4 linked regions of the Homo sapiens genome follow. The protein of the gene in region 2 interacts with the protein of the main gene of each other region in a pairwise test. Each region holds a gene or a part of one and is shown on either strand. Other genes may lie near its edges. The genes, in order: GIMAP5, EVI2B, AQP3 and AQP1.

Evidence for each region.
Region 1: the proteins of EVI2B (region 2) and GIMAP5 interact in binary tests that used the Homo sapiens proteins (3 or more experiments, as listed by UniProt).
Region 3: the proteins of EVI2B (region 2) and AQP3 interact in binary tests that used the Homo sapiens proteins (3 or more experiments, as listed by UniProt).
Region 4: the proteins of EVI2B (region 2) and AQP1 interact in binary tests that used the Homo sapiens proteins (3 or more experiments, as listed by UniProt).

What each region holds. Positions count from the first base shown.
Region 1 is NC_000007.14:150,739,054-150,745,697, forward strand, and holds the end of GIMAP5 (GTPase IMAP family member 5), read left to right. Parts: intron 1-1,825; coding exon of another isoform or gene 1,826-1,831; coding exon 1,832-1,874; intron 1,875-3,129; coding exon 3,130-4,010; 3' UTR 4,011-4,593; downstream 4,594-6,644. Other genes in the region: GIMAP1-GIMAP5 protein, read left to right, coding at 1,826-1,874, 3,130-4,010. UniProt on the Homo sapiens protein: Plays a role in T lymphocyte development and the optimal generation of CD4/CD8 double-positive thymocytes. Inhibitor of GSK3A, possibly by sequestering GSK3A in cytoplasmic vesicles and impairing its translocation to the nucleus.
Region 2 is NC_000017.11:31,302,189-31,312,103, forward strand, and holds the end of EVI2B (protein EVI2B precursor), read right to left. Parts: intron 3,443-9,915; 5' UTR 3,422-3,442; coding exon 2,075-3,421; 3' UTR 1,582-2,074; downstream 1-1,581. UniProt on the Homo sapiens protein: Required for granulocyte differentiation and functionality of hematopoietic progenitor cells through the control of cell cycle progression and survival of hematopoietic progenitor cells.
Region 3 is NC_000009.12:33,439,333-33,446,181, reverse strand, and holds the end of AQP3 (aquaporin-3), read left to right. Parts: intron 1-2,289; coding exon 2,290-2,416; intron 2,417-2,723; coding exon 2,724-2,861; coding exon of another isoform or gene 2,862-2,977; exon of another isoform or gene 2,978-3,003; intron 3,004-3,211; coding exon 3,212-3,330; intron 3,331-3,663; coding exon 3,664-3,881; intron 3,882-3,970; coding exon 3,971-4,139; coding exon of another isoform or gene 4,140-4,192; 3' UTR 4,193-5,022; downstream 5,023-6,849. UniProt on the Homo sapiens protein: Aquaglyceroporins form homotetrameric transmembrane channels, with each monomer independently mediating glycerol and water transport across the plasma membrane along their osmotic gradient. Could also be permeable to urea.
Region 4 is NC_000007.14:30,920,347-30,927,425, reverse strand, and holds the end of AQP1 (aquaporin-1), read right to left. Parts: intron 5,361-7,079; coding exon 5,196-5,360; intron 4,863-5,195; coding exon 4,782-4,862; intron 3,977-4,781; coding exon 3,797-3,976; 3' UTR 3,600-3,796; coding exon of another isoform or gene 3,417-3,599; 3' UTR 1,910-3,416; downstream 1-1,909. UniProt on the Homo sapiens protein: Forms a water channel that facilitates the transport of water across cell membranes, playing a crucial role in water homeostasis in various tissues.

The sequences.
Region 1 (6,644 bases), on a different chromosome or scaffold from region 2:
CCTCAATTCAGAGAAACTCCTGCCACCAGCAATTTTATTTTTGAATAACCTTTTATAAGAAATGCACTCAAGATTTTGCAATAAAATTCTGTGTGTTGGTTTTAGGGTAGGCTTCTAGCTGTCCAATTAATTTGTCTCCTGACCAGGGAGTGGCAGCATTGTACACATGTTCCAAGAGGTTTGTTGACTTTTTTGGAAAAGTCTCTTTTTCCACCTGTGGAATCAAGGACAATACACAGCAAAAGGAGCCATTTCCTGATGCTAGCTCCATTGTAAATATGTGACCTTTGGCAGGTCATTTAATGCTCAGTTTCCTTGCATTTTAATAGAAATTTTAAGATCAGTTTTGATCACATCACAGGGAATTTGAGAGAGCAATTAAAATAAGAAGGATGAAATAACTTTGAAAATTATAAATGTATTCACAGAGGCTTATTACAATTATGATGTTCATAATCAATATCATTACCACTGTCATCTTGACCCTTACCACATCATTATGTTGATTCCAAACCTCAGAAAACGTCATCTAAAGTAGAGAGGATGTCAGGGAACTGGTGCTATTTTAGCAAAAGCCAGAAGCATAATTTACCAGAGACGAGAACAGGGTGTGGGAGAGAGGAAAATGTTCTTCTCTGGGCTTAAGAAAAAGAAAGAAAGGAGAGAGGGGAGGGTAAAGAGGAAAGGAGGAAGAAAAGAAAGAAGGGAAAGGGAGGGAGGCAGGAAGCTGTCTTAATACATTCTGATAATATAAAAATAGATTTCTTGACCTAAAGAAGGCCAAGAAAATCCACTGAATGAATAGAAAAATGTGGAAAAGATAGAAATCACAGAAGTTATTAAAAATTGAAGTTTATAAATTACCAAAATAGCAAATAAACCATGAAAACTGTTTTTAATTTAATGATAATCAGTAAAATGTAAGTTTAAGCCAATTAAGACATCCTTATTTATGCCCATAAGGATGACAGGAAATTAAAAGTGTAATATTACTAAGTGCCTGTGAAGATTTGGGGACTTCTTATAAATGGGTGGTGCAAATAGGAGTTAACTCAACTCCCTGGGAGTCATATTTGGCAATAACCAGTCACGTGGAAAATGTACATCCCCAATACTGTTGCACAATGCTGGAAACCCGGAGCAGGCAATGAGTTGTTCTTGAATTCGGCCTGAAGTTGATTCTTTCTCTTCAATCACCTCACTACCTCCTCTCCACCAACCGTCAGGGTGGGAAAGCGGTCATACCGGTCCCCCTATACCATTTCCTCTCACGTCAGTTCTTCGTGTCCCTGATCCCCACTTCCATCCTCCCACTGGACAGTACCTTGTAATTTCCTCTCCGCCGCTGGAATGTCCATTTGACACAAAGACTTTCTGGGACTGGAAGTTTCCACTACTTCAAATAAACCAATCTTATTTACAGCAAGGCAATTTTTTTTTCTCTATTCTGGTAAGTTTGTTACTTTAATTTCAATTTTTTTAATGCCTACTCTTTGTTCCATAGAAGAATGCTTTCTCCATTTCATGCCTTTCTGGTTGGGGGAGATAATCAACTGATTTGCTTCAAAATATTTCCTGATTTTCTGTAAGTTGAGGGGAGGGAAGTAATCGTGCACTATTTTAGCATAACCTAACATCTAACATCACCTGCTTTGTTTAAAGTTATTTACAGATGTTTCAAAGTAAAGTATGAGTTAGAAAATTAGGGATGGAAATGGCTCATTTGAGAATGATTATTCTTAGATGTCTGAATTGAGGTGCCCTCAGGCTCTACCAGCTCCCAAACGTACATCTGCTTTTTATCCTTTTCCTGTTTTTATTCCAGGAGAGAATGGGAGGATTCCAGAGGGGCAAATATGGAACTATGGCTGAAGGTAAGAAAGTCTTGAAGTTCTCAAGAGCCCCAGACACTTGGGAGAATCACAATTCTCTCCCCATCTACCCCCATCTAAAACACAGTGGCAGAAACCCATTCATTTTAAATGAAGAAGATAAAGGCAACTATCATCACGTGTGTGTTATCAAACCATCACACACACACACAGACACACACACACACCATAGTGTGATGCTCTCCCTGCATCAGGTATGTGGGAAATGTGGAAAGGAAACCAAGTCATAGGTTGAAGGGTCTGGAAGCAAATGGTGAATATGTTTTCTCTTTCTTTGTCTGCTGACAGCTCAAAAAGAAAAGGTCCCCATAGGGATTTAGTCATTGTGCTTGCTACAAAACACCACAGAATAACTTAAGAAAACGAAGAACCAACCCAGAGTGGGAGAAATAAAATAATAGATTTTTAAGAGCCTAAAATGCACTTCGAATTCATTTGGGCTCTAGAAATCCACAGGTTCTCCCCTCTTCGTGCCTGAAGATTTTCGCTCCTGCCACAGTGTCACCCTCTCCAACACCACTTCTGCTATAATTTTGTGTGCTTCAATCAGCCACATAGATGAGCTTTTCAACACACATGCTTCTATTGAGCTTATCTTCCACCTTTTTGAGCCATCCACCCTAGGGTCATCTCCCAGACGCTGCCCTAACATTAACTACAACCTATGTCATCTCAATTTCAAACATTTCACTCCCTATCCAGAGGGCACAGACCCAGGGACAGGCAGCTGACCCCCGGCAGTGGGTCACTATAGATTTGCCAGTGGAGACCTCCTTGACCCTCAAGACTTGGATGAATGTGTGGAGTGTGTCTATACAAGTGTGCCTGGAAATGTGTGGGTGAAAGAGAAGTAATTGGATTTTCTCACTTGTAACTACTAATCCCCTGCCTCTTTCTAATAATTCTCCATGGAGCTGGCCTAAACACCACGCAGGGGAAAACACAAGGACCATTTTCTTTCAGGAAAGCTCTATTTGCCACAATCCAGATGAAGTGCTTAAAGCATCCCCTTAATGCAACAGTTCTAATTCCTGGCTGTGGATCCAAGCATGGGCTTCCAATGGGGCTTTCTACATGCAAGATTCACCTATAGTTGTATGCACACTTTTATGTACACATAAATATGTCTGTCATTCTGGGGAGGACGTTCATAGCTTTCATGAGATAACCATGAACAATGACCTAACAGTCTTAAGAATCATTAACTTAGTAAGATACAAAACTTCGTTTTCTACAGGTAGATCAGAAGATAACTTGTCTGCAACACCACCGGCATTGAGGATTATCCTAGTGGGCAAAACAGGCTGCGGGAAAAGTGCCACAGGGAACAGCATCCTTGGCCAGCCCGTGTTTGAGTCCAAGCTGAGGGCCCAGTCAGTGACCAGGACGTGCCAGGTGAAAACAGGAACATGGAACGGGAGGAAAGTCCTGGTGGTTGACACGCCCTCCATCTTTGAGTCACAGGCCGATACCCAAGAGCTGTACAAGAACATCGGGGACTGCTACCTGCTCTCTGCCCCGGGGCCCCACGTCCTGCTTCTGGTGATCCAGCTGGGGCGTTTCACTGCTCAGGACACAGTGGCCATCAGGAAGGTGAAAGAGGTCTTTGGGACAGGGGCCATGAGACATGTGGTCATCCTCTTCACCCACAAAGAGGACTTAGGGGGCCAGGCCCTGGATGACTATGTAGCAAACACGGACAACTGCAGCCTGAAAGACCTGGTGCGGGAGTGTGAGAGAAGGTACTGTGCCTTCAACAACTGGGGCTCTGTGGAGGAGCAGAGGCAGCAGCAGGCAGAGCTCCTGGCTGTGATTGAGAGGCTGGGGAGGGAGCGAGAGGGCTCCTTCCACAGCAATGACCTCTTCTTGGATGCCCAGCTGCTCCAAAGAACTGGAGCTGGGGCCTGCCAGGAAGACTACAGGCAGTACCAGGCCAAAGTGGAATGGCAGGTGGAGAAGCACAAGCAAGAGCTGAGGGAGAACGAGAGTAACTGGGCATACAAGGCGCTCCTCAGAGTCAAACACTTGATGCTTTTGCATTATGAGATTTTTGTTTTTCTATTGTTGTGCAGCATACTTTTTTTCATTATTTTTCTGTTCATCTTTCATTACATTTAAATCTCTGGACCCTGGAGCACTTCTAATGTATCACCCCATGGAGTCATTGTTCTAATAATCACCAATTCAGACTCAGATCCTCGTGGTCTATGGAGCATGCTGCTTGCTGTCTGTGCAGCTCCCATTTCCCCTTCTTCCTGATAGACTTGGAGCTGTGTGCCTCCACTCCAAGGCTGCCTGCCTGCTGTAAACACTATTCCACTCTGTCTGCCAACAACTGCTTCAGGAATGGGCCTGAGATCCCATGCAGGTCCCTGAGAAGTGAGTAAAAGTCCGCAGAGGTGGGGATGGAAGATCTCTCCTTAGATAGAACCTGTCTTCCTCCCTGGCATTGTGGGGTCTGGGCGTGACACTGGGACTCTCAGCAGCTTTGTGCTGCCAACCTGAGATTGAAGGCAGTGCCTCAGAGCAGCACAGAGAGTTGGGGCCCCCTGAGCCCTGAGCCACCAGCCCTGCAGCCTGCCCTATCTCCGCATTTCCAGTTGTATTAGCCAATAGATTTCCTACTTATTTAAGCTATTTGAGCTCCGGGTCTCTTCTACCTGCATTCTAAAACATTCAAAGTAATAAAAATTTCTCCACATTCCTTTTTATCCTTTAAATCTGTTGGAACTTCCCAGTCCACATGCTTCCTTTGAGCAAGTGGCATCTAGAATAAAGGAACAGGGTTGGCTTTTCTTGTTCCTAAAATTAGGAAGAACCTCCTGCTCCTACTGAAGTGCCTGCCACATAGTGGACATTCCCTGAACTCTGAGTAAAGCAAAACACTTTCAGATGGATGGATTGCATTGACGAATGGGAGTGGGAGAGGGTCAAGGAAATGGGGTGCCCTGTACGCAGGGCTTTCTCTGTGCTTTCTTCTCAGTTTGGCCAGGGGCCCAAAAGAAACACAGCTCACATTTCAATGCTCTGCAAGGAATCACTTTGGCAAATGTTCACACATGAGAAAGGTTAAGCAAACTCTTTCTCCTTCTCCACTGTAAAATGTCCTTGGATCAACTCTCCAGCTCTATTTCTTTGGAAGTCAATGTCCACAGGGTGGGGGTGGGGGACAGGTTGTTGACTGGGTACCAGGCAATCCTGCTCACCATGAAAGCGATTCCTTGTTAGTAGAGGGAGTGTGGACTGGGCGACCCAGGAATGGACCATCCCCACACTGGAAGGAAGCTACTCTGGCAGCGCCGCTCTGTAATGCTTTCTTAAGATCATGGCTATGTCAATCAAGAGTGCCTCCCTGGAGGGAGGGAGAGCCCAGACAACATCTACTGGACCAGTTTCCAGAGGCTTCAAGGTCACCACACTTATATGCAGTCTTTGTCTCCCTTGGCTCAGCCCACTCCTCCTCTGCAGGGCTGCTGCAGTGAAGGGAACCACATTTCAAAGAGTCATCCAGGACAGAGGTGAGTTCCCTCCCGATGTTGCCATCAGAGACCACACCGCAGGACACCTCCTCACCTCTCCCGAATCTGTCCTGTCCATCCCCACTGCTATTGCTGGAGTGCAGGTGCTGATTTCCTCCGAATGTTATCCCTGTCCCCAGGCTTATACTTATACAACCCAGCTGCCACCTGATTTTCCCAAGACACACCAACCTGCTCAGAAGCCTCCAGGGAGGATTCCAGAAGGCACCCTTGAATCCTAAGAATGAGGCCCAGACCCCCCCTCCCCACCCAGCCCCAGTCCCCTGTGCACCCCTCCTCCCATGTGCTGACTCCCATCCCCTTCCTTAATCACGTGTCCCTCAGCCTCCAGTGACTTCCCCAAGAGGCAAGGATGTTCCCAGTCAGCTTAGCATCACCCTGTCTAGGAAGCTGCTGCAGAGCCTGCCGTGGTCTCCTTCTTGCTGACATTGCTTCCAAAAGAAACCTTCTCCTACAGCCCCACTTTTATGTGCTTTCATCCCTCCACCCCACTACCCCTCCTGGGGAGCAGAAGCCTGTTATTTTTTATCTTACACTCCTGGTGCCAGGCATTGACCCTGACCCTCAGTACTCACATCATAAATGTCTGTGAAGCTGGACTGAATTAAGTAAGTCAAGCTCAGTTGGAGCAGTTTGGGAACAATGAATTGAGGAGGTGGTCCTCAGTCTGAGAACTCAGGGTTCCCAGGGTTTGGGGAGCTGGCACACAACATACTCCCTGCACATGTTTGGAATCAGTTCTGTGCCAGACGATGCAGGAGTCAGTGCCATGGAGCCAGACGTGGAGCTTCATTGCCAGCAGCAGTGCTGGAGGATGCTGCTAAGGGGCATCACAGCTGAGCACCTCAGACTCACCCCAGAGTAGTCACTTGCCCATCCAGCCATGGCCTGTCCGGGATGGCTGCAGGTCTCCCTTACCGAACACAAAGAAGAAGGTGTGGTGGAGGGACCCAGGGACTTCCTCTTCATCTGATTACCTGTTTCCACTGAATTCCCGATCTGCCCATACTTGAGCCCCATGTCTGCCTTCTTCTCTTTGCTGCTTGAGATGGGGAACACCACCCTTTCCTCAAATTCCCATGGACATCACACGTCACTGTCCTGGATGGTACTGAGTTTCGGGTTAGAGATATCGCATTGCAGTTCAGCCCAGCCAACAATGGGAAATCAGTGAAACAAATGACAGCCCTCGGCCCAAATCTGGCCCACCACC
Region 2 (9,915 bases):
GTCCTGTTATACAAAGAACAGAAAGAGAAAACCTCCCTTTAAAAGTACTTAAAGATATCAGACAACACTGTGGTCAGCTAATCAGCTCCCGTTTAATCTAAGAAAATTGGTATTTCCCTATTTTTCCCTGTATTTCTTTCAGGAAAGAAGGTGGTAAAAAGGGGCAAAAATGTGGAACGAGCCCATTAAGTAACTGTCACAAATGTAAAATGAGAACAGTTATGATGATTTAAGGCATGTCAAAGACTTGGCCAAGTATAAAAACATATCTTATTTACCATAACAAAAATTCGTAAAATTAAAAAGAATAATAGGAAATTCTCAACTCCAGATTGCTGCTGGGGAAATTAGCTTTAAAAGTACTAAGTTTGGGCCGGGCACGGTGGCTCACGGCTGTAATCCCAGCACTTTGAGAGGCCGAGGCAGGTGGATCATGAGGTCAGGAGTTCAAGACCAGCCTGGCCAATATGGTGAAACCCCATCTCTACTAAAAAAAAAATACCAAAATTAGCCAGGCGTGGTGGTGCACGCCTGTAGTCCCAGCTACTCAGTAGGCTGAGGCAGGAGAACCCCTTTAACGTGGGAGGCGGAGGTTGCAGTGAGCCAAGATCATGCCACTGCACTCCAGCGTGGGCGACAGAGTGAGACTCTGTCTCGAACAAAAGTACTAACTTTGAAGAATACATGAAAGAAAATTTTTAATGAGGAAGACAAAAGATGTAATATGACAATAAGTATCATGCTTATTCAGGAAAAGTAAGAAGCTCAAGGAAGTGTTTCTATAGATTAAAAAATTAATGGTCAGTAAAGATGGCTTGAAAGATTTTAGGAAAAACATTGTATGTAAAATTCCTGTGTCCAAAACCCTACTGGTTCTTATTAAATATGGAGCTTTGTTAATGTCATGAATGCCAGTGCTATGAATAAATGCTATGTTCTACTCTGAAAATCCCAGAACTATGAGTGGTTCTCCAAGACTGGGCTACCATTTTATTCTAAGTGCTTGTTTCCCCCTGGAGTTAGATGGGACTAATGAGGAAGAATATGTGCTTGTTGGGCAAAGGAGCACTTCTGCAGACAAAGGCTGGCATCCCCAAAAGTATAGGCTGATGACCACTCTTGACTTTGACAAAGATTGGGCCCATTCCTACTCTAATAACTCAGACTTACCAATTGTCAGATAATGGATAAAGATGAAATTCTGTGTAAGAAAGGTGACTTAAGAGTGGATAGCATCAGAAAGTATAAGTTTAGTAAAAAGTTGAGAATCATCTGTGTTTTGATAGTCTCTTTTCCTGAAAAAAAAATCACCCAAAGTCACCCGTATTTAGAATGAAGCCATAGTCTTCTTTTCCTTTTTTTTGCTTTATAAAACTTGATTTTGTTTGGGTGTTTATAAAGAAGAAACTTGTAAAGATGCCAGTTTTAAAATTTGTGCCCCCCCAACATGGTAGGAAAATATTTACATTTTATGATGCATCCTCATATTTTTTTCAGGGTAAATGTTCCTAACCCAACCCTTCAGTTGATGTTTTAACATGTTTGTTTTACTCTTTGCAATGAAACCAAGAAGAAAATTTCTCTATTCTCAAACATGCATTTTAATCTCCCATTCCCACAAACTTGGAATATTTATTTAATACTTGAGGTATTAATTTAAAACTTGAAGCATATACTTAGTCTCTTATTCCTCTCCACCCTGGTCTTTGAAATGGAAACATAAAAGTTTATTCACCATAATTTTATACACAGCTTTTCAGGGGAAAAAAAACTGTACTGGGTAATAAGTATATGTAGATTGTTTCAGAGTTCTTAAATTATTGAAACATACCATTTACATATGTAAAATGTACTATACTTTAAAGATAGGTACTATAATTAGTAAATAGATTACTGTTAAATAACTTTTTTTAAAAAAAAGTTTCATCTATGCACATAGGCTCTGAGCAGATTTCAGATAGTTCCTGAATAAAAATCAAAATTGACTATCAGTTGCCATTTTATATATGTTAACATATAAAGAAAAAAGAGTCATTTGAGGATGGAAGATCAGCTAAAAAGCAAGTTGTAATATTTATAACAGTTCTGCAGGTGGAGGTGGCAGGGATTCATTAAGATCTTGATCAGAGTTGGGAGGAATAGAGAACTCCTGACACTGGATCTCAAGGTTGGAATCTTCTTGGTTTTTCATAAAATCTACTGGTGGCAGGGGCAAGTTAAGTGAGTCAAGCGGTGGAAATGATTGTATTATCTCAGATTTATGATCTCCACAGTCTTGATTGAGACAGTCCAGAGATGGAGGGAGACTAGTAGAATCATTTGGAAGAGGAGATACAATTGTCATTGTGGGTTTGTCAGATTGGTTACTTTCCTGTCCTTCCAAATCCAGAAGGGGAGGTGGTGGAGGCAGATCTGCATCATCTGAAGAAGAAACAGCAGTTCCAACTGTTGAACCATCAGCACTATCTTCTGATGTACCATTTACTTGATCTTTTATTTTCTCTGTTTTGGGGTTGTTGGAGTCTTCAATGTTTTCACTTGATTCAAACAACTTAATTTCTAAGTCATCTGCTAAAAGTGTGCTTTTGCTTGGTTTCCAGGGTGTAAGTGAAATGATTGATGTACGTTTTGTGGATATTTCATTTTCTCTGATGTTATCCATACAAATGTCAGGGGTTTCTCCATCAGCAAATGGAGATCTACCTGCCCAATTTTGATCATTTAAAACTGGTTTCCTTAAGCATTTCCAAAGTACAATGATGATTATAGCTACCAACATAGAAGTCAGAAGTACACCAATTAGTATGGCAGCTATTGAATTATAATTGTTTTTTTGTGGGGTTTGTTTGTTACTGGTAGTATCTAAGATAAATCCTGGTGTACTCCTAGGTGAATTTTTGACAGTTGATGTTGGTTGTGTGGATGGATTATGAACAGTTATTTGTTTTCTAGAAGGGATCTGGACAGATGATGATTGTTGAGTAAAAGTATAGACAAATGACTTTGGTGGTTGTGTGGTAGAAGTACGGGCAGATGGTAGTTGTCTGGCAGAGGTGAACACGGCTTGCTGGGAGGAGGTGTTGGCTATTGGTGTTGGTTGTTTGGTGTTGTAGGCAAGTGGTTGTCCAGCAGAAGTATGTGCTTCTGGTTTTTCAGAAGAGGTATAGACAGCTGGTGTTGGTTGTCCAGCAGTGACTTTGGCAGGTGATATTGATTGTCCAGAAAAAGTGTCGCTGAATTGTGTTGGTTGACCCAAAGGATTCCCTGTTGTGTTTTGAGAATTAGCCAATACCTGTGACATTGATGATGTGAATAAGGTAGGCTGTGACTGCTTCTCTGTTGTAATTGTCTCTGTCTTTGAAAAAAATGTATTGTTCAGGTGTCCACAAAACAAAATTAAGATGAAATATTTGGGATCCATTTCAGAATATTTCCTCGTTATCTATAGCGGGTTTATAATGAAAGAGAAAGACAGTTAGGCGTCATTGGTGTCTAGTTAAAAATTTGACTTTTCATTATGATTCCTGGCATAAAGTAGGTAGACATTATTCCTAATTAGTAGTAGTTGATTAGTAGTTATTATTCCTAATTTAGACTTGATACACTGTAGGTTTGGTGTAACAACTCTTGGATATACTCTAACCCATCATACAGCATTTGGACCTCATAAGCAGTGATCTCTCTTCTTTTATTAATACAAGTTCTGTACTTGGCTCTGCTGCCCCTCTAGCTTCATTATATTTCAGTACTTCACTTAGTCATACTTCTCAAAACGCATAGGCTCTATATGCTGGATCCATGTGTTCTCTACCTTTTTTCACCATTTTCTACTAGAAATATATTGATTCTCCTGCCTTGAAGAACACCAGTGATCATCTGTTACCTAATCTAATTGTTCTTTATTTCTTCTCTCCCCTCCCCTCCTTGACCACATTAGACACTACTGTTCCTTCACTAATATTCAAGTAGCTTTTTGTAATCAGTCTTCCTTTCATGTTACTCTCACTAGCTCTTTTTCTTCTGCCTCCTAAATATGGTTAATTGATATTCTGTCCTCACCCTTACCTACTTTTCTTTGTTCCTGATTCTGTAAGATTTTAGTTCTCAGCTTTATGCCACAATTCCTAAACCTGTACCTCCAGCCTACATCTTCTTTGTCCTAATTCTATTTGTGTGACTTCTTGGTGGATTTTTCCATATTTTATATATATAGATAGATAGACATAGATATAGATATAAATATCTCCCACTATCAGCAAATTCAACATATTTAAAATGGAGTTCATCTTTACCCTCACAACTGACAACTGACTCTTCTCCCAACTTCTCTGTATCTGTTAATGGTACCACTAAGTTTCTTAGGCACAGAGTCTATTAGTAATCTTTGAAGCATCCTTAGTGTCTCTGTAGCGTGGTAGCCTTATGTTAATATTGCATATTTTTAAAGAATTTCATTCAACTCAGAGTCTTAGGCTTAAAATCCTAGAGTGATCTCTGAATCTGGTGGAGTAAATTCAATCCAGTTGGTCAAGTAGTCCTGCTGCTGCTTTCATTCATCTATTGGTAAATGCCACATTTGTGTGGAGCTCTGTTCTAGGTTTAGGAGATTAAAAAAAAAAAAAAAAGATAGTCACTGCCTTTAAGTGTTTCAGATTCTAGTGATAGAAGCAAACAGTAAAGGCCAGGCGTAGTGGCTCATTCCTGTAATCCCAGCACTTTGGGAAGCCAAGATGGGAGGATCGTTTGAGGCCAGGAGTTCAAGAACAGCATGGACCACATAGTAAGATCCCATCTCTAAATAAAAAGAAGAAAGAAAAAAAGCTAAAAAATAATTACAATAATTTTTTTTTTTTCAAGACAGTCTTACTCTGTCACCCAGGCTGGAGTGTAGTGGCACAATCTGGGCTCACTGCAAATTCCGCTTCCCAGGTTCAACTGATTCTCCTCTCTCAGCCTCCAAGTAGCTGGGATTACAGGTACACATCACCACGCCTGGCCTATTTTTGTATTTTTAGCACAGACGGGGTTTCACCGTGTTGGCCAGGCTGCTCGAGAACTGACCTCAGGTGATCTGCCTGCCTTGGCCTCCCAAAGTGCTGGGATTACAGGTGTGAGCCACCACGCCTGGCCCAATTACAATAATTTGATAAGCTTTCTCATAAAAGTATGCAGGAGATGTACAGAGAAGTTAACCTAGCCTGGAAAGGCTTCAGTGAAGTAAAGCTTGAACTGAATTTTAAAAGTCTATAAAAACTAATTAAGTTTCCAGCCAGGGAGAGCAACAATGTGGGCACAGGAAAATAAGGCACATATGAAAGTTTGGCAGATAGGGCTTTTTCTGGGATGTGGTAGATGCTAAAACTTGGAGAGTTAAGTTTCAGTTCTACTTCTCCCATCTAACTACCTGTCTAACCATGAGAACTAGTTGCTTAACCTTTCCTGTTCTCAATTGCCTTTCCTCTAAAGTGAAGAGTTCTACTGAGACAATTTGCAACTTTTGGTATAATATACTTGTTTTGCACATCATCAAACACAATGGCAACTATTTGGTTATCTCTTAACATTAGGGAATAGAAAATCTTAGGGTGTTAGATATTGGTATACATGATTAGAAACTATAGTTCTTCTGACTCATAAGCCTATATTTAGAGAGATTTGATGTTCTGTTGGAAGGTGCAATAAAGGTTTTACAAATTACCTTTTCAGCATATCTAAACAGCATATCATTGCTTACTCCTCTACCACTTGGTACACAGTGATGATAAATGGCCCTGTTTTAGTAGAAGAAAAGATATGTGATTTTTTTCCCTATACGAATAATTCAAGCCTGAATTTTAAAACAGTTCTCCTTTGAACTCTCCTGCACACTGCTGAATTAATCTTAAAAGTGTGCATGATCAGGTTACTACTGCCTTGCTTGAGGGTTTAATTTCTGTTAAGATAAAACTTCCTTTTTCTTTTTTTTTTTGGAGACAGAGTCGTTCTGTCACCCAGGCTGGAGTGCAGTGGCATGATCTTGTCTCGCTGCAACCTCTACATCCTGGGTTCAAGCGATTCTTGTGCCTCATCCTCCCGAGTAGCTGGGACTACAGTAGGCATACACTACCACACCTGGCTAATTTTTGTATTTTTAGTAGAGACAGGGTTTCACCATGTTGTCCAGACCGGTCTCGAACTCCTGACCTCAAGTGATCTGTCCGCCTCAGCCTCCCAAAATGCTGGGATTACAGGCATGAGCCACCACGCCTGGCCTGTTAAGATAAAACTTCTAAATTGAGTTTTCTTCCTTCTGGCTTGAGTTAACCAGTCCAGATTCACGTATCATGACTGAAACTTCTTATCCAGCCAAATGCATCCCTTTCCCACCTTGCATACTTTCTAAACACACGATTTTTCCCTGCTAAACAGACACTTCTATGCTGTTTTTTACCCTTCTCAAGGGTGTTCTTTTTTTTTTATTTTTCTTCCAGACCTAGCCTCTTCCCCTTTCTGGCTGCATATCTGAATCTGTCCTCATCTTTCAGACCTCAGTTTAAATTCCCCTTCTTAACCCAAGTTCTCTGTGACTGACTACAGCCCAAACAGATCAGTCATTTACTGAATTCCCCCTAGCTCTCATTTATTGTTTTTATGGTTCCTTACATAATTCATGTATGTATCTCACTCACACTTCTATTCTCTTAAGTAATTGTGTTTACTTTTCACATTTTCCTATACCTACTTCCTTGAACAAGATTATAAAGAACCTTGAAGAAGGCAGAAAGGAGAAAGAAAAATACTTATCTAGAGCATATTATGTGTTGTACTATCCCAGTTTTGCATACTTTATTTCACAGAACCTTCAAATGACTTTATAAGGAAGGTAAAGGGATCCCTTATTTACAGATAAAGAGACAGTGTCAAATGAGTTAAGCAGTTTGCCTGATGTTATACCACTCGAAGTGACAGATTGGGAGTTTGTACCCAGGGCCACCTGATTCCAAAGCATACATTCTTTCTGCTACCCTTTATTGCCTCATGTTTTTATATTTTGATTTCTTTGTAGTTAATGCCTTATATATTAGGAGCACAGTAAACATTTAACCTGTATTGGGCTTCTTGATTCCTTTCCATTTTAGTTTTTGCTTTTTACTAGTACTTCTACCAGAAAATAAGCAGAGGCAGTGAAATCTGAGTTAATAAATTCTGCTTTTTATCCATTTTGCAAAAGATTTAAAAGGGAAAATTTGAACACTTTTGGCATAGATATAGGGATTTGAATAATCTCTGGATGGTCATCATCCATGCAGTTCCTACCCATTATTCTTATAGATTACAAAAAAAGGCGGGGGGACTTCTTTAGAAAATGTTATTCTCTTCAGAACTTCATTTTAAAAATCTGTTTTAATGCTATGCAAAGCATCAGAAAATATAAGCCATGAATTGTCTTTAGCCAAAAATGTTTCCTCTTTTGTGACTTTGCTTAAAATAAGGAAACCATACGGTTCCTCTTTTCAGTTAGCTGAAAAAGGCATTAGAGAAGGACAGGGCCCAAACAGGAACATAATTTTAAACCCAGGTTAGTTTGTAAGATCAATTTTGATAGGCTCCTATCCTCTACTGTCAGTAGTAAGCTGGTGGAACCCTCCATGTATGAGATTTTCACTTGTCAGTTAACGGTTATGGCAATATTAAAACCAAATTCCATTTTTTGCCTATCCTAACACTTTCTACCACTCTTCAGTTAGCTTTTTATCCTCCTAGGATCTGCCACATCAGAGTACTAGAAACTGTATTAGAATTCTATGATGGCAATTCAGTGTAGTCCAGAGAAGGAGAAGAAAGATTTAAAAGAGGAATAAATAGGGAATATGGTAGTGGAAAAAACTGACTTTTTTCCCAGCGGTAATGAGGCCAGCGTTACTACCAGTGTGGAAGGTTATTTAGCATACACATTTTAAAATATGTAAGTGGTGTGTACCTGAAGTACCAACATTGTTTCTGTAGGTAAAGAACAATATTGGGCAGGGGAATAAAAAGGAGATTTAGAATAATATAAAAGGCAATGCAAAGAAATACAAAATAACACAAAAGAGAAAAAACAAAAACTCTAGGAAGCAGCGAACAGAAAAGAGGAAGGTCAATTGACTAGAGAAGATACAGAAAAGAAGAAAAGTTAATAAACAGGTGAAAAAAAAAGCAGTGGTTATATAATTAGCAAGAAGGCAGTGTAGATGATTGAAGTAGGCAAAATGAAGTTGGGGGTGGGGGGAGATGATTGAAGTAGATGAAAGAAGCAACGGCAAAATGCTGCTCTGTTGTGGCTGGCCTGTGTTTGTGAGTGCAGGGAGACAGTAAAGAGGAGCTTGCTTTCTAAAATGGAGGACCAGAAGGAACCATCCTTTCAAATTCATTTACCTTTCATTTCAGGCTCTCCTGTCTGCTGTGAGTATCCTTACCATCCTCTCCCTTTTTTTTTCCCTGACACTATCCAGAAGCATACCTAGCAATTATTCCAAAGAACCCATGTACCCGTGTACGTTTTATATAGAGTTTTCCAGAAATCCCTTAGTCTGCTGCTCAAGCAAATTTGTCAGCCCTCATATGCCGGTTTTTACTCATTATTATAGGCTGGCACTTTGAGGTTTAAATCTGTGATTTTGGTTCTTTTTCTTTGCTGAATATTTAGAATATTTTAAAAAGAAAAACATAAATTTAAACATTTTAAAGACAGTTACAGTGAAGCAGGAGTCCCCGTGTATAAGACATGTTCTTTTTTTTTTTTTTTTTCCGTTTGGAGACAGGGTCTCACTCTGTCACCCGGGTTGCAGTGCAGTGGTGCAATCTCAGCTCACTGCAGCCTCTGCCTCCTGGGCTCAAGCGATCCTCCTCACACCTCAGCTTCCCTAAAGAAGTTAGAAACTGCAGGTGCACTACACCACGCCCAACTAATTTTTGTATTTTTTGTAGACATGGGGTTTCACCATGTCACCCAGACTTGCCTTGAACTCCTGGACTCAAGTGACCCACCCACCTTGGCCTCCCAAAGTGCTGGAATTATAGGCATGAGCCACCGAGCCCGGCCATAGACATGTTCTTATAAATATAATGCATAAGTACTTAAAGGGTCCAGCATTTAAAATTGATGCTGTTAAGTTGGATATGTTAGGAAGTATGCCATTATCTTTTAAAGAGAATCAAGATTTGGAGAGCATATCCTAGACAAAAGACAAGTATAGATAGCTGTATCAATTACTTTGATATAATAAAAGTTGTGATGCAAATATAATAGATTAAAATTTAGCAGTAGTATTATCTCTAACTAGTGAAGTTTTGAAACCGTAAAAGAAAAAACCAGCCATTCTGCATCTTGAGGAAAAGTGGAAAGAGAAATTGACCTTCAACTACAATAGGAAGTATTTGATGACCATCTTGTATCATGATAGTGACCATTTACTGAGCACCCACCAAAGGCTAAGCAGTATCCTATTTTAATTAGCTAGGTGGTGGTTTTTTCATCCTACAGATAAGGAAACTGAGACACCACGATGTTGGGTAACTTGGCAGTATCACAGCTCTAAGTAGTGGCACTAATACAAAAATCATGCTAATCTTGTGCCAGAACCGTTTCTTTCTATCACATTTCACTGTATGTGCTATACTGCCTTTCATAGAAAAGTTATGAAATAGAAATGCTTTATGAAGGAAGGAGATGTGAGTTGGTGGGAATTACACGTAAATAACACTTGTAGGTAGTCTTAGATAAAGGGTAGGAAAGAAATACCTGAAAACCCATTTTAGTCCTGATTCTACGAAAACTATTATAAGAATTTGGAATGGTTTCTATAAAGTGTCATATTTAGTAAGTTTACTGAAAATTTTGTGGTGATTTTTTTTTTAAAGCTTGGACATTGAAAGGCATCAGATTTATGTTTC
Region 3 (6,849 bases), on a different chromosome or scaffold from region 2:
TTTATCACTCTCCTGCCTCGGAGCCCTCACTCCTATCGGAGTCCTGAGTCCAGCCACCTGTTTTAGAGCAGCCAGGCTAGGGGAGGATGATGTCTTCTATTTTCCTAGAGGGGCCTCCTCATTCCCTCCCAAGTCTCAGTTCACTCTCTCACAAAGGAGCCGTTAGTCCTCCCACTGAGCCCCAGGATCATCAGGCTTATCCCAGACCACAAAAGAAGAGTGTTAAATTTTAGGGGAAGGGTTGCAGACTCAGATGGATGTGAGGTATTGGATATCAGTGAGAAGCAGAACTTCAAGGACTGCATGAACTGGAGGGGCAGGCCTGGGGATCCCTTTGTAGTGGGTGAGTGCCTGCCTGCCTACCTGCGTGTTGGGAGCCTAGGCCTGCAGTGGCAGAATCAGGGTTGGCTTTGGGGTGAGGAAAGCCCCTTTCTCTGAGATACCTGGTGTGAGGGCAGGGGGCGGTGCTGGCCGAGAACTCAGGGCAGGGGTTGGGGGAGGAAGAGGAAGATTAGCCCCAAGGTGGTGGAACTGGCTCTGACAGCTCCTCCCTCCAAGGCGTCCTGGGATGGAGCCAGGTCTGAGCCTTTGGCAGGCAAGGAGCTGCTGCCAGGGCCTCCCAAGCAGGGCAGGGCGCCTCAGACCCTCACGTGCCTGTCTCCCACCACCCCTCCTCACACATACACCTGCAATCTCTGATCTTTGCTCTCACCTGCCTGCACACCTTTGCCCCATGTCATTGCCGCTGGCTTCTCCGTTATCTCTTGGTCTTTCTGGGATGATAATCAAAATGCTTAACTATCCAGTACAACAGGCACTGACCCGTCAGAATAAACAAGGTCTGTAGCACAGGTCCTGGAAACTGCCTGCTCTGTGGGCATAAAACCTTTAGTTATGGGCAGGTGGGAGAGGAGACCAGGGCAAGGCATTGGAGCAGCTTTGAGGGACACTCAGGGGGCTCAGGGCAACAATGCTTTACAGCTGCTGCAGAAGTATTTTCAGGCTTGAACAAGGGGAACAGACATAGTACGTTCTTTTTCTTTTTTAAATAGAGACAAAGTCTCACTATGTTGCCCAGGCTGTTCTCAAACTCCTGGGTTCAAGATCCTCCCATCTCAGCCTCCAAAGTGCTGGGATTACAGGTGTGAGCCACCACAGCTGGCTCCAGTATGTTCTATATTTGTAGAACACCAGGGCTCTTAGTCTCTTTTAGTTCCCCCATTTTTGGCAGAAAGTTTAGAACCGATCTCCCCATTTCTACAGCCCTGGGTCCCGGGCTGGGGATAGTGAGAGGAGCCACACAGATCCCTGTCTGTAGGACCTCCAAATCTGAGTGGGGAATCTGGACCCCTGAGAGCAGAGAGGTCATGGGTGGAGAGAGGAGACGCTGGGACAGGGACAGGTAAAGGAAGGGGAGGTTGTTGAGGGGGACATGGTGAAGGCTGGGGCTCTGGCATCCTGGACTCAGGAGAAGTGGATTCAACCTCACTTCTGGTCTCCTCCCTATTTATTTATGCCGCCCATTGCCACCACTACCACCACCACATGAGCTTTTCTTTTCAACTCTTTTTTTTTTTTTTTTGAGATGGAGTCCCGCTCTGTCGCCCAGGCTGAAGTGCAGTGGCGCAATCTTGGCTCACTGCAACATCTGCCTCCCATTTTCAAGTGATTCTCCTGCCTCAGCCTCCCGAGTAGCTGGGATTACAGGCACCTGCCACCACGCCTGGCTAATTTTTGTACTTTTAGTAGAGATGGGGTTTCACTATGTTGGCCAGGCTGGTCTCAAACTCCTGACCTCAGGTGATCCACCCACCTCGGCCTACCAAAGTGCTGGGATTACAGTGTGAGCCACTGCACCGGGCCTACATGAGCTTTTCTTTGGGGCAGCTGGGGGATGAGTGAGAGGCTTCCCACCTTTATGGTCCAGGCCTGAAGGGCTGTGGAGAAACTTGTGCTAAGGTGAAAGCTGTTCCCCTACACCTACGCCTGCTGAAATTCAAGGAAAATCAGTGAAGATGGTTCAGTCATCTTCTAGGATCCCAGTCGCAGACCCTGCTTCCAGCCCTTTCCATAGGGCCCTCTCATATTAGAGTTGGGACAGTGGGGTGGGAAGGCATGTGTCCTTTTTCTGGAAAGTGCAATTACAGCAGAAGGGGTTTGGGCTGGGTTCCAGGAAGCGCCTCTAGTCCTCCCAGTGGTGGCGAGTGGGCATGTTGCTGGCTTCACCCCTTCCTTCTGGAGTGAGAGTTGCTGGTCCTCACCCTCCCTGCCTGTTCTTCTTCCTGACAGATGTTTGGCTGTGGCTCCGTGGCCCAGGTTGTGCTCAGCCGGGGCACCCACGGTGGTTTCCTCACCATCAACCTGGCCTTTGGCTTTGCTGTCACTCTGGGCATCCTCATCGCTGGCCAGGTCTCTGGTAAGGCCTTAACCCTGCCCCCAGCCCTTGGCCCTCAATAGCATTCCCACTAGGTGTCCTGGCATTCCTAAGGGCAGGTCACAGCTGTGGCCTCTGCTTTGGCCCCTTGGGAAAGGAGGGTGGAGAAGAAACTTGACACTTAGAACTTTCGACTCTCACCTTGGAATCAGAGATTATCAGCTGACCTGTTACATAGACCAACCGCCATCCTGTGCAAGAAACCCCTCTCTGCACCCCTTCTCAGGGGACCCTAGCCTGCCGACTGTGGCAGGCTGCAGCTAATAGGTCCCTTGTCCCCTCTGCCCAGGGGCCCACCTGAACCCTGCCGTGACCTTTGCCATGTGCTTCCTGGCTCGTGAGCCCTGGATCAAGCTGCCCATCTACACCCTGGCACAGACGCTGGGAGCCTTCTTGGGTGCTGGAATAGTTTTTGGGCTGTATTATGGTAAGCATTCCCCACCCTGTCCTCCTCCACTACCCCCGTCCCTCTGTTCAGGACCTGCTGGCACCAGGCCTTTTGATGACAGACGGCTAGGACCTGCCCAGGCCCCGGGCTCATGACTCACTCATTCACGCACAGGGTCAAGGTAGGGGGCACGAAGGGAAAGAAACAAGTTGGGCAATAACAGAGTCTCAGGCCCTCCACCCCACCCCACGCCACCCCCTCTGCCTGCTGCAATACAGCAGTATTGCTACTTACCCATAACTCATGGGAGGGTGGGGAGGGCACACCTGAGAGGGAAGTCTGGGCTCAGGCCTCTCCCCCGACTCACTGTGTGTCTAATCTGTCACCAGATGCAATCTGGCACTTCGCCGACAACCAGCTTTTTGTTTCGGGCCCCAATGGCACAGCCGGCATCTTTGCTACCTACCCCTCTGGACACTTGGATATGATCAATGGCTTCTTTGACCAGGTATGGGCTGGGGACGTGTGAGGGGAACGCAGGGAGGGGACCGAGTTGCCTTGGTAGCTCATGGGCTGGTTGGGGGACAGGACTCCTCGACTGTAGCAGGGTTTCTCCAATCTGTGGGGTAACCCGCATCAGAACATGGTGGCAAGTACTTACAAAACATGCGGCTCTCCAGCGGGTTCTTGTCACGCAGACATTCTAGCACCATTGCTTTCAGGAGAAGAGCATGGGCGGGCGCTGACAAGAGTTTAAGAGCTAGAGGGAAGACGGGGGATGGAAGGAGGGGTCAGAGAAAGGGAGGGAGCTGCAGCTCACCCTGTTCTCCCCACTCCCCAGTTCATAGGCACAGCCTCCCTTATCGTGTGTGTGCTGGCCATTGTTGACCCCTACAACAACCCCGTCCCCCGAGGCCTGGAGGCCTTCACCGTGGGCCTGGTGGTCCTGGTCATTGGCACCTCCATGGGCTTCAACTCCGGCTATGCCGTCAACCCTGCCCGGGACTTTGGCCCCCGCCTTTTTACAGCCCTTGCGGGCTGGGGCTCTGCAGTCTTCACGTGAGTACAGCCCCCACCCAGCTCACCCCAGCCTGCCTCTCCTCTGCCCTGCCCCCCATGTCCCTGACTATGAGTGTCTGTCCCCCCAGGACCGGCCAGCATTGGTGGTGGGTGCCCATCGTGTCCCCACTCCTGGGCTCCATTGCGGGTGTCTTCGTGTACCAGCTGATGATCGGCTGCCACCTGGAGCAGCCCCCACCCTCCAACGAGGAAGAGAATGTGAAGCTGGCCCATGTGAAGCACAAGGAGCAGATCTGAGTGGGCAGGGGCCATCTCCCCACTCCGCTGCCCTGGCCTTGAGCATCCACTGACTGTCCAAGGGCCACTCCCAAGAAGCCCCCTTCACGATCCACCCTTTCAGGCTAAGGAGCTCCCTATCTACCCTCACCCCACGAGACAGCCCCTTCAGGATTTCCACTGGACCTTGCCCAAATAGCACCTTAGGCCACTGCCCCTAAGCTGGGGTGGAACCGGAATTTGGGTCAATACATCCTTTTGTCTCCCAAGGGAAGAGAATGGGCAGCAGGTATGTGTGTGTGTGCATGTGTGTGCATGTGTGTGCATGTGTGTGCAGGGGTGTGTGTGTGTGGGGGGGGTTCCCAGATATTCAGGGCAAGGGACCAGTCGGAAGGGATTCTGGCTATTGGGGGAGCCCAGAGACAGGGGAAGGCAGCCTGTCCATCTGTGCATAAGGAGAGGAAAGTTCCAGGGTGTGTATGTTTCAGGGGCTTCACATGGAGGAGCTGCAGATAGATATGTGTTTCTGTGTATGTGTATGTCTGCCTTTTTTTCTAAGTGGGGGCTTCTACAGGCTTTTGGGAAGTAGGGTGGATGTGGGTAGGGCTGGGAGGAGGGGGCCACAGCTTAGGTTTGGAGCTCTGGATGTACATACATAAGTAGGAGCAGTGGGACGTGTTTCTGTCATAATGCAGGCATGAAGGGTGGAGTGAAGTCAGGTCATAAGTTTCATGTTTGCTTTTGTTTTGTTTTGTTTTTAATGTATGTAGCAGATGTTACAGTCTTAGGGATCCGGGATGGGAGACCCCACTTTAGAAAGGGTCGTCACTCCTTTAATCCTCTACTCAACAATGTACTCTTTTACTTTTATATTAAAAAAAATAAAATAAATATGTGCCTAAAACCTCCAGTTGTGCAAATATCTTTCTGCTTGCTCTGCTGCTTTTCTGGGGCCAGTTAAGGAGCTTCCGCATGCCCACACTGACCCAGGGTGCCCGGCTGAGTGTCTGATCTGGTCAGGTTACCCTGGGGGTCATACAGAGAGGTTAGAGAGCCTCTTCACCAAGGCTCTCAGTTTGAACTCAGTGGTCCCAAACTTTCCCCCAAGTTTCCGTCCTCATGGGTACCCCCAGCATAATGAATGGAATCTTCTTCCCAATCCCTGTACCCACACATCACCCCAGAAAGGCTTGAGCCCTATGCAGGGAAGATCTTGCTGCAGAGCTACCCAATGGGGAGAACTGCTGCCCAGGAGGTGGTGAGTTCCCTGTTCCTGGAGGAGACCCATCAGACTGGGAACCTGTATTGTCCTCCACAACCTGCAGCTATTCAGGCTCCATAACCTCCACCCAGACCTTGGCCACAGCCCCCCTGGCAGCCTCCCTGCCTCCAGGCCTGCCCCAGTCAGTCCACAAAGCAACCAGAGGGATCTCTTCAAAACCTCTGCTGAAAGTGCCCATCTGGAGACCATCCACAATGCTCCATCTGGCGTTCAGGACCTCCAGGTAGGGTCAGGAGCCTACCCCTCCTCTCACATGGCTCCATCCACCTCAGCCTACTTTATGTGTTTCTGTGTTTTTGTGTCTTCAGACTTTGCTCCAAAGTCCCAACTCACATCTTTGCTCATTAAAGTCCTCATGATCTGCTTTAACGCCTCTTCCTCCGGGAAGCCATCCCTGCTCTGCCTCACTCTTCCAGCAACTTCTAGTCAGCTGTCTTAAGTGCCAAGACCCGCAGTTGCGTTCACGCTCATCTCCCCTTCTGCTTCATTTCTTCAGTCATTTCTTCACTTCTACAGAGGCACCTCTGTGCCCAGTAAGGCAGGGGGTTGGAAGACTGACTCTGGCGCTCTGACTTGCCCAGAAAAGCAACGGGCTCGGCACACCTGAGAACAGGAAGCTTTTCTCATTTGCTTCTTCCTTACCATACCCTCCTCAAGTTTCATCAAGGGAAACTTCATGCAATACAAGGGAAGGCATCCCCTACCCAATCCCTCCTCTGAGCGAACCCCATGGGAGCCAGAGGATCCCTGGGTGTGGCAGGCGAATTGTGGTTTTTAGAAGCTAAGCCAGCTTTTGCTCTCCAGCCTTCACAGATGAGATCATGGTCCAGAGAGGGCGGGTGGCAAACACAGGGTCACACAGCCAAGAATCTGCCTACGGAGGTGAGGGCAGGAGAAGGCAATACCATTTTAGGTTTCTATCCCTTCTTTGTCCCCAGCTCCCAAGAGGCGTGTCTGGAATGCTGGAGGGACCTGAGCCAGAGGGAGTGTCCCCTTCCCAGGCCCTGGGGGGAGGAAGGGCAAACCTTGGGAGGGGAATACGGCTGCAGAGGGTCATTCCAGCCACACCAGTCCCACCTGGGCTGCCCTCACCTTGCTGTCCTCCCCAGCATGCCCCATGTCCTTCTGTCACCCATTTCTCTCAAATCCTGCTGCTGACCCTGACCAGTCAGCCTAGGGGGTGTTGGCAGCACTTTTGGTGCTGCCACCTGGCCCAGCAAGGATTCTCTAGCTGGGTGACCTTGGGGTAGTCATGTTCTTTTCCTGAACCTCCCTTATCTGTGAATTGGGAGATATTGAGAGGAGGAAATAATGGAAGATGATTCATGGAAAGGACTTAACACAGTGATTAGCAGATGGTAAATCCTCAATAAATGTCACCTCATGATTTTTCCTGCAGAACCAGAGATGGGGGTGGGGAGGCAGTGGAGGGAGGATGCTAAAGGCTGT
Region 4 (7,079 bases), on a different chromosome or scaffold from region 2:
GAGTCTAGGATCCCTTTAGCCCAAAGCTGTTGCCCCCTGGCCTGATGGGTAGCTGAGGGCCTGTCTTAGTGCATTATTATCCCTCATGGTGCAGCATTGCCCTTCCCCTTCTCAGGTATTCTGCTGGGTGAACATGGTCCTCAGACACTTTCCTCCCAAGGAGGGGGAGAGTCAGGCCGTGGAAGGCAGCAGGGAGGTTTGGGTGACACCACGTCCAGTTAGCCCTGGAATGAACAGGCTTCTCCAGATGCCAGATGGCTCTGTGGCTGGCCCTTCTCCTCCCTTCCCCCTCCCCATGCCCACTCTGCAGGAGTGGCTGCCTTCTTCATGCAGTCCGGCTTCCTGGCTAGCCCAGAGCTTAACTTAGCAGGAATCATGACAAAACCGGCCCAGACCACATCGTGCAAAGAGCCTGATCTTTGAAGCCAAGCAGAATAGGTTCAAATCCCAATTCTGCCACCAACCTGCTGTGTGGCCTACGGCAAATCATTTCATCTTCAGGGGCCCTGGCGTCTTCTACAAATGGGGACACGTATCTCTACCTTCTAAGGATGTTGTAAAGATTAGAGCGAATGTATGCAAAATCTCAGAGAGATTCTTCACACATGGTAAGTGCTCAAGAAATACCAGTTCCCTAATGGCTTATTCAGGCCCTGCCTCGTGGCTCTAGGATTCTAAAAGTCATATCTAAGCAATACACTAAAGAAGGCTGTGCCATGGAGCGGGGGTGAAATGGGGGTGGGGGTAGAAGTGAATGAGTAGGAGTTGAGGTGGCGTGGCTGGGCCCATAGTGGTGATTGGGAGGGCTTCAGGCCAAGAAGAATGGGACAAATTAAGGAGACAAGCTGAGAAGGGCTGTGAGAGATAGCCTCGGCACACCCTCACAGGCAGGCCTGGGATGCAGCGGGCTGGCCCATACCCAATTCCCATAGCTTGGCTGGCACTCTGCCATTTATATGCCCCTCTTAAGCTGGGAGATAAGCTTCCTTATCTATTAAATGGGCTAGAAGTTCTTGCAAGGGAACGGAAAAGAGTGTGCAGATGTGATGCACTGATTTGCAGGGACTTAGACAGCCTAGTGACCCAGGGCACACTTAAATTAGAAACCCTGTTCCATCAACATGGCCTCAGTCTTCATTGCGGATGCCTAGCCCCTGGCTCCCTGAGACCCAGCCCCCCTTATATCACCATCAGCCAGGCATTCCACAGAGGGGACAGGAACCATGTGTCTCCCAGGAGCAGTGCTGGGGCCCCAGGACCTGTCCATACACTATTTCCTGCCTCAGCCCACTGCCGTGGTGATACCTGTTCCCTATTATCAGGCACTACTAAGTGTGTGTGCACGTCGGGAGGGTCAGGAGCCAGGGTCCCAGTCTCAGCCTGAAGTAGCCCTAACTGCACTGGGCTCTGATGAGTGAGTCTGTCTCCCATGAGACGCCCAGCCCAGGTCAGATGGGTTGCAAATGTGAGTGGAGGGAGGGAGGAAGGTGGAGCAATCCCTAGTGTTCCCTGGGCCCTGCTCTGTGGAGGGTAGAGGGGATGAGGGGGCTGTTAGACTTCAGCCCTGCTTTCCCCCATCCCTTCCATACTCCGGAATCAGAAATGGCTCCCATCGGTCCATTTAAACTGATCAGAAGCCTGCCCCTTTTCCCTGCCCCCAGGTCTCCAAAGTCATCCCACTGGGCTCTGGAAGTCTCCTACTAGGGGCAGGACCCTGTGTCCCTCAGATGGGGTTCTGTGGTGTGGCTGTATCCATTGCCTGAGATCAGGGGTCTTGAAGGCAGAAGGGGAGGCAGTGGCTCCTCCTCAGACTGGGTCTCTAGCAGTGGCCTGATTTCCTTGTGGAGTAATCCAGAAACATTTGTGGGGACACAGCATCAAAAGAAGAAAAACTACAGGAAGCCTGAAGGACCTTACAAGTCATTTTCCTTTATTTTCTTAACATATAATGAAATTCCAACTCCAAAGAGACATATATGCAGAGCAGACAGATGCAGGGCCTTGGTGTGCAGCAGCCTAGAACCAGGCAGGGGGTGGGTGTGACCCCTCTCCCCTCCATCACAACTCTCCCCACTCCTGGCCCCTGGCCATTGCCCAGGCAGAAACTGAGAAGCTGGAAATGAGAGGAATCAGCCTCGTGGTCCAGGGAGTAGCCAGAGACAGGGCCTTGGTTACTAGGCCTGGCCAAATCATTGTCTAGCTGAAACCGTGGGCCTCAGTTTCTTTATCTGTTAAATGAGCTAGAAGTTCCTGCTAGGGAATGGAGAAGAGAGTGTGCAGATGTGATGCACTGGTGATAGTTAAGGGCCTTCTGGTTGTCCCTCTGCTTCTAAATACCTGCGTAATTGTGTCTCTTGGTTTCTGTTGCCATCATGGCTAAGTGCACAGTGGTGGAGCTGCTCTGGCCCTGGTGGAATTGAAAGGACTTATGTAGATAGAATCCAGCCTTCAAAGCTGATCCTGATCTCTGAACTGTCCTTGGGCTGCAACTATAGCTACCTCATTAGGTCAAGGCTGACCTCTCCCCTCCAGGTCAATGCAGAGGGAAGGCTGTGGCCAGGGGTCATACAGCAAGCCTGTGCAGGTTATTCAGCTGCTCAAATGCCTCTGATCAGGAGCTCATGAGCAAGGGAAGAGCTTGCTCCATCCTGGTCAGGACCAGCTGAGGGCTTGGAAAACCCCCAGGCCCAGCAAGGGCATCTGCCTCCATGGGCTGACCTGCATCAGGGTCTTTCTGTCCTCAGGCTTTGGGCTTCAGACAGCTCAAGTGCTCTTTGATAAACATACACCAGCATAATGGTGACCTGTGTCTACACTGACAAGAGGGAGTAGAGAACTGAAGAATGAGCAAGATAATGCAGTGATAGATGGAAAGACCAACTAAAACTCAGAGAAGTAACATGGGTATTTCTCCTTCACCCTCTAAATGGCTTCATTCTGCAATAGCAGGCCCTGTGTAGGGAAGCCTCTCCATAGGGAACAGAAAGTTCCAACTACCTGGCTGTCTGTCGATCTCTGCTTTGTAGCCTGTCTGCTCTGCACACATGTACACAGAGGCGTGTGGCGACAGTCATGCCCCTGGGGAAAGAACACAGGGCAAGTGGAAAGAGCAGCCCTGGTCTAGACCACGTCTTCTGGACCCATGCTGTGTTTGCACTTAGGGGCTGCAGGCCTGTAGAGCTCTGCCGGTCCCTGCCACTTTGCAGAAGGAGGTCACTCAGGCCCTGATATAGGGACGATTCCAAGGTCAGGCAGTAAGTCCGAGCGGGTCAGGGGCTTGGGAGCAAGCAGAACTGAAGGAGCAAAGCTTGCCCCCTCCACTGCACCTCCTGGGATCTCTTCCCCCTCCAAGCACCATTGGGAGCAAGGTGCATGTTAGGAAAAGAAGGAGGGCCGTGCCCAAAGGCACAAAGCAATTACGGTAGAATCCCAGGCACTTGCGCAGGTGAGTCGGTGAGCAACTTTGGGGCGAGGGGGGACTTTCTGGCACACCTCCCATCATGCTCTGAGGGGCGACTAGCAGGTGGGTCCCTTTCTTTCACCTCCTCCACAACTTCAAGGGAGTGGGTGAATTGGTAAATCTTGGTCCCCAGGAAGCTCTGAGGCCAGGAAACAGAAAGAGAAAGAAAGAGATAGAAACACCCCCATAAGAGGCTTGACCATGCAGGTCTGGCAGATCTTGGGGAAGTGACTTTGGCCAGCTTGTCAGAGTGTCTACAGTATGGATTTCACCCCTCCCCTCCCTCCGCCCGCCCCTGCCCCTGCCCCCTACGTGGATGCCCGGGCCAGACCCCTTCTATTTGGGCTTCATCTCCACCCTGGAGTTGATGTCGTCGGCATCCAGGTCATACTCCTCCACCTGGCCGCTGGTCCACACCTTCACGCGGTCTGTGAGGTCACTGCTGCGTGGGGCCAGGATGAAGTCGTAGATGAGTACAGCCAGGGCTCCCCCGATGAATGGCCCCACCCAGAAAATCTAGGAACAGAGCAGGTGTGTTCAGAGGGCTCCACTCAAAAGCCCCTGGGAAGCGTTCCCTAGGTTACCCCACAGCCCACCACCCCGTTGGACAGGTTTTTCCCACCTGGGATGGAGGCAGGTAGGAGAGCCAAATCCTAACATCATGATTCCGGTGCCCCTCAGAACCGGCCCAGGCCAGAGTACGTGGTAGGGTCAACTCCTTGCCTCTGTGGGGCCCAGCTCAGGCATGGGCAGTAGCAGCCCCTTCTTGAGGAAGGCCACTGCCCCCACACTCCCAGCTTTGGAAGGGCCCCAGAGACCATTGTCTAATGCAAAGCTGGCCTAGCACATCCACATCCACAACCATAAGAGCTAAAATCCACTGAGCGCCTCCTCTGTGTTGAGCTCAGTTTACAGATGGGGAGTGAGCCCTTTCCTCTTCTCGGCCACCCTGAGAGGTGGGCACCACCATATCCCCCTCCGCAGCTCAGGAAACCAAAGCTCAAGCACACTGCGCAAGGTCATGCTAAACCCGAAAGTGGCTGAGCCAGGATTTGGAGCCCCACTTTTAACCACGCAGCTGGGAAGACCTGGAGGCCAGGCAGCATGGGGCAGGGCCGAGCTGGGAGGGCAGAGACTAGGCCTGAAAGTGCTGGCAGTGTGACCCCCAGCCTGCCTCTACATGGCAGGCCTCAGTTTCCTGATTTCCTGTCCTCTGGCTGTCTCCCAGAGCCTCCAGAACAGGAAGGGACACTGTGAGGGTGGGGTCAGGCTTACCATGGGACACCAAAGCTTCCCACCCCACCCCCCGTGGGTCTCCTACCCAGTGGTTGCTGAAGTTGTGTGTGATCACCGCGGAGCCAAAGGACCGAGCAGGGTTAATCCCACAGCCAGTGTAGTCAATCTGTGAGGGAAAGAAACAGAGGGAGGGGCGAAGGCAGAGAGTCATAGGTGAAGAGAGAGTGAGAGGAGGGAGAGGTTGGAGGGAGAAAGAGAACAATCAGGGTGGGGGACAATGAGACCCAGGGAAAGAGGAGTGCTGACCCCAAGCTGGGCAGGAGGTCCCTGTGCTCCTCTCCAGGGCAGGACCCTGCCCCCAGCCCCCAGCGCTGACCCGCCATCCTCCACCCAATGGCAAGAGCCCTGTCGGGAGTCCCACTGGCTGCCCATGGCAGGGCACCCCACCAGCCCCCGCCCTCCCTTCCCCCACCTCCATCTGGGAGGGCCCCTGACTCACAGCCAGGAGGTGTCCAAGGGCTACAGAGAGGCCGATGGCAAGGGGGGCTGAGCCACCAAGGTCACGGCGCCTCCGGTCGGTAGTAGCCAGCACGCATAGCACCAGCTGGAGGGTCCCGATGATCTCGATGCCCAGGCCCTGGCCCGAGTTCACACCATCAGCCAGCTGCAGGGGAGAGAGGTGGTGAGGACTGGTGAGGAGGGTAGGCAGGGACTGTGTCCCAGGACCCCAAGGATACCCAGGCCTCCCAGGCCCAGGCATGAAGGGCGGACCCTCAGATGGGCCTTCAGAGCCCATCACAGGGTCCCAGGCAAGCCTACACGGCAGGTAGTGGAAATCAGGCCTTGAACCCACCCCCTGTGTTAATGAAACTCCAGCCCAGCCCCTAATACCTGCCTAGACCCAGGCCCCACTCTGCCTAGAAGCTGGAGAGGCCTGGGGTGAGCTGGGGCCTTTGCATCCAGCTGCATCCAGGCCAGGGTATTCTGGGGTACCAAGACCAGAGGCAAGGGGCGAGCCCCAGGCATGAAGGTGATGGTCAGGAGCACTCCTAGGAGAAGAGATGCAAAAAGGTGGGAAGGCCCAGCAGGGGACACGGCTTCATACCCAAAAGTCCAGAACATTCCACCCCATGCCCGACTGCATCTAAATTCCAGGGCTGAGGAGGCCTTCGGTGAGGTCCTGGCTCCCTCCACCCCTCTTTCTCCTCTGTGCCTGCCTCCCTATTGTCTCCACCCTCTCTCTCTCCTTCTCCACCCCGTCTCTTTCCTTGGTCCAAGGCCTGTCTCCCATTGCTTCTGGCCCTGCCCTCCCTGTCTCTCCTTCTCTCTTCTTCCTCCCCACTGCTGGCCTCAGCCTCACCCTCCCTCTGCCTGGCCAGATAGGCCCCGCCACCACCGTCTGGCTGCCACTTACTCCTGGGCCACTTTTAGAAACATGACTCATGGAAAGAGAAGGGAATGGAAGCTGCTGTGAGGTCATGAAGGCCCTCCCCATGCAGCTGCCCCCGGAGGACCCCTCCCCAGGAAGCCCCAGCACCTTCCACTATGCTTTGTGGCCGTCCCAGGGGCTAAGTGCACTCACACAGGGGAGATGGACCACATCAGCAAAGGCTCACTTGCAAAGATGCCCACTTGAGGCCACTTAGGCTGCCTTCTCCCAGGCAGGGCTGGTGCACCCAAACACTTCCCAGCTGGGAGACAAACTACCCAGCTCCCATCCTCAGGATATGGGAGTGTCTCCAAGGCCATAGAGAATTTTGCAAAATCCAAGGTAGGGGGGCACACCTTGGAGGTTTTCCCAGCCCCACCCTGAGGCCATCCTACAAGAACAATTCTCTTCCCGCCTTTGTCTGCAGCCCTGGGTTACAGGGAATGACTCACATCCCCTCCCCTGCCTTGCAGCCCCAGCTTTGGGCCTTTCCTGGCGGACCCCAGGGCTACATCCCTTAGGTCCGCCAGCCCTCTGGCCAATGCCCAGTTCCCTTTCTGTCCCAAGGTTGGGCCAAAGAGGCAGAAGCCCTGTGTTCAGGTTCTGACTCTTCTACTTTCTGGCACCATGAGCATGGCCTATTCCCTCTGGTCTTCAGTCTTCCCATCTGCAAAATGGATCTCATTGTCCGTGCCTGCTCTCCAGAGCAGCTGGGAGGTTCAAAGGCCAAAGGGGCCGTCTCAGGGCTTTTGGAAAGAGTTGTCGACGCAGGAGGGATGGGGCAGTGGTAGTGACTCTTGTTTTGGTTCTTCTCATTGTGTGTGCAGGATCTGGGGACAGGCAGAAGGAGTGACGGCGGGTGGAGCTGCTGGCAGAAGCCTGCCCAGAGTTAGGACAGGCTGAATGGGGTTGAGGCTGGTGAGGCCAGCCCGGCTAGTCCTGATGCCCACCCAC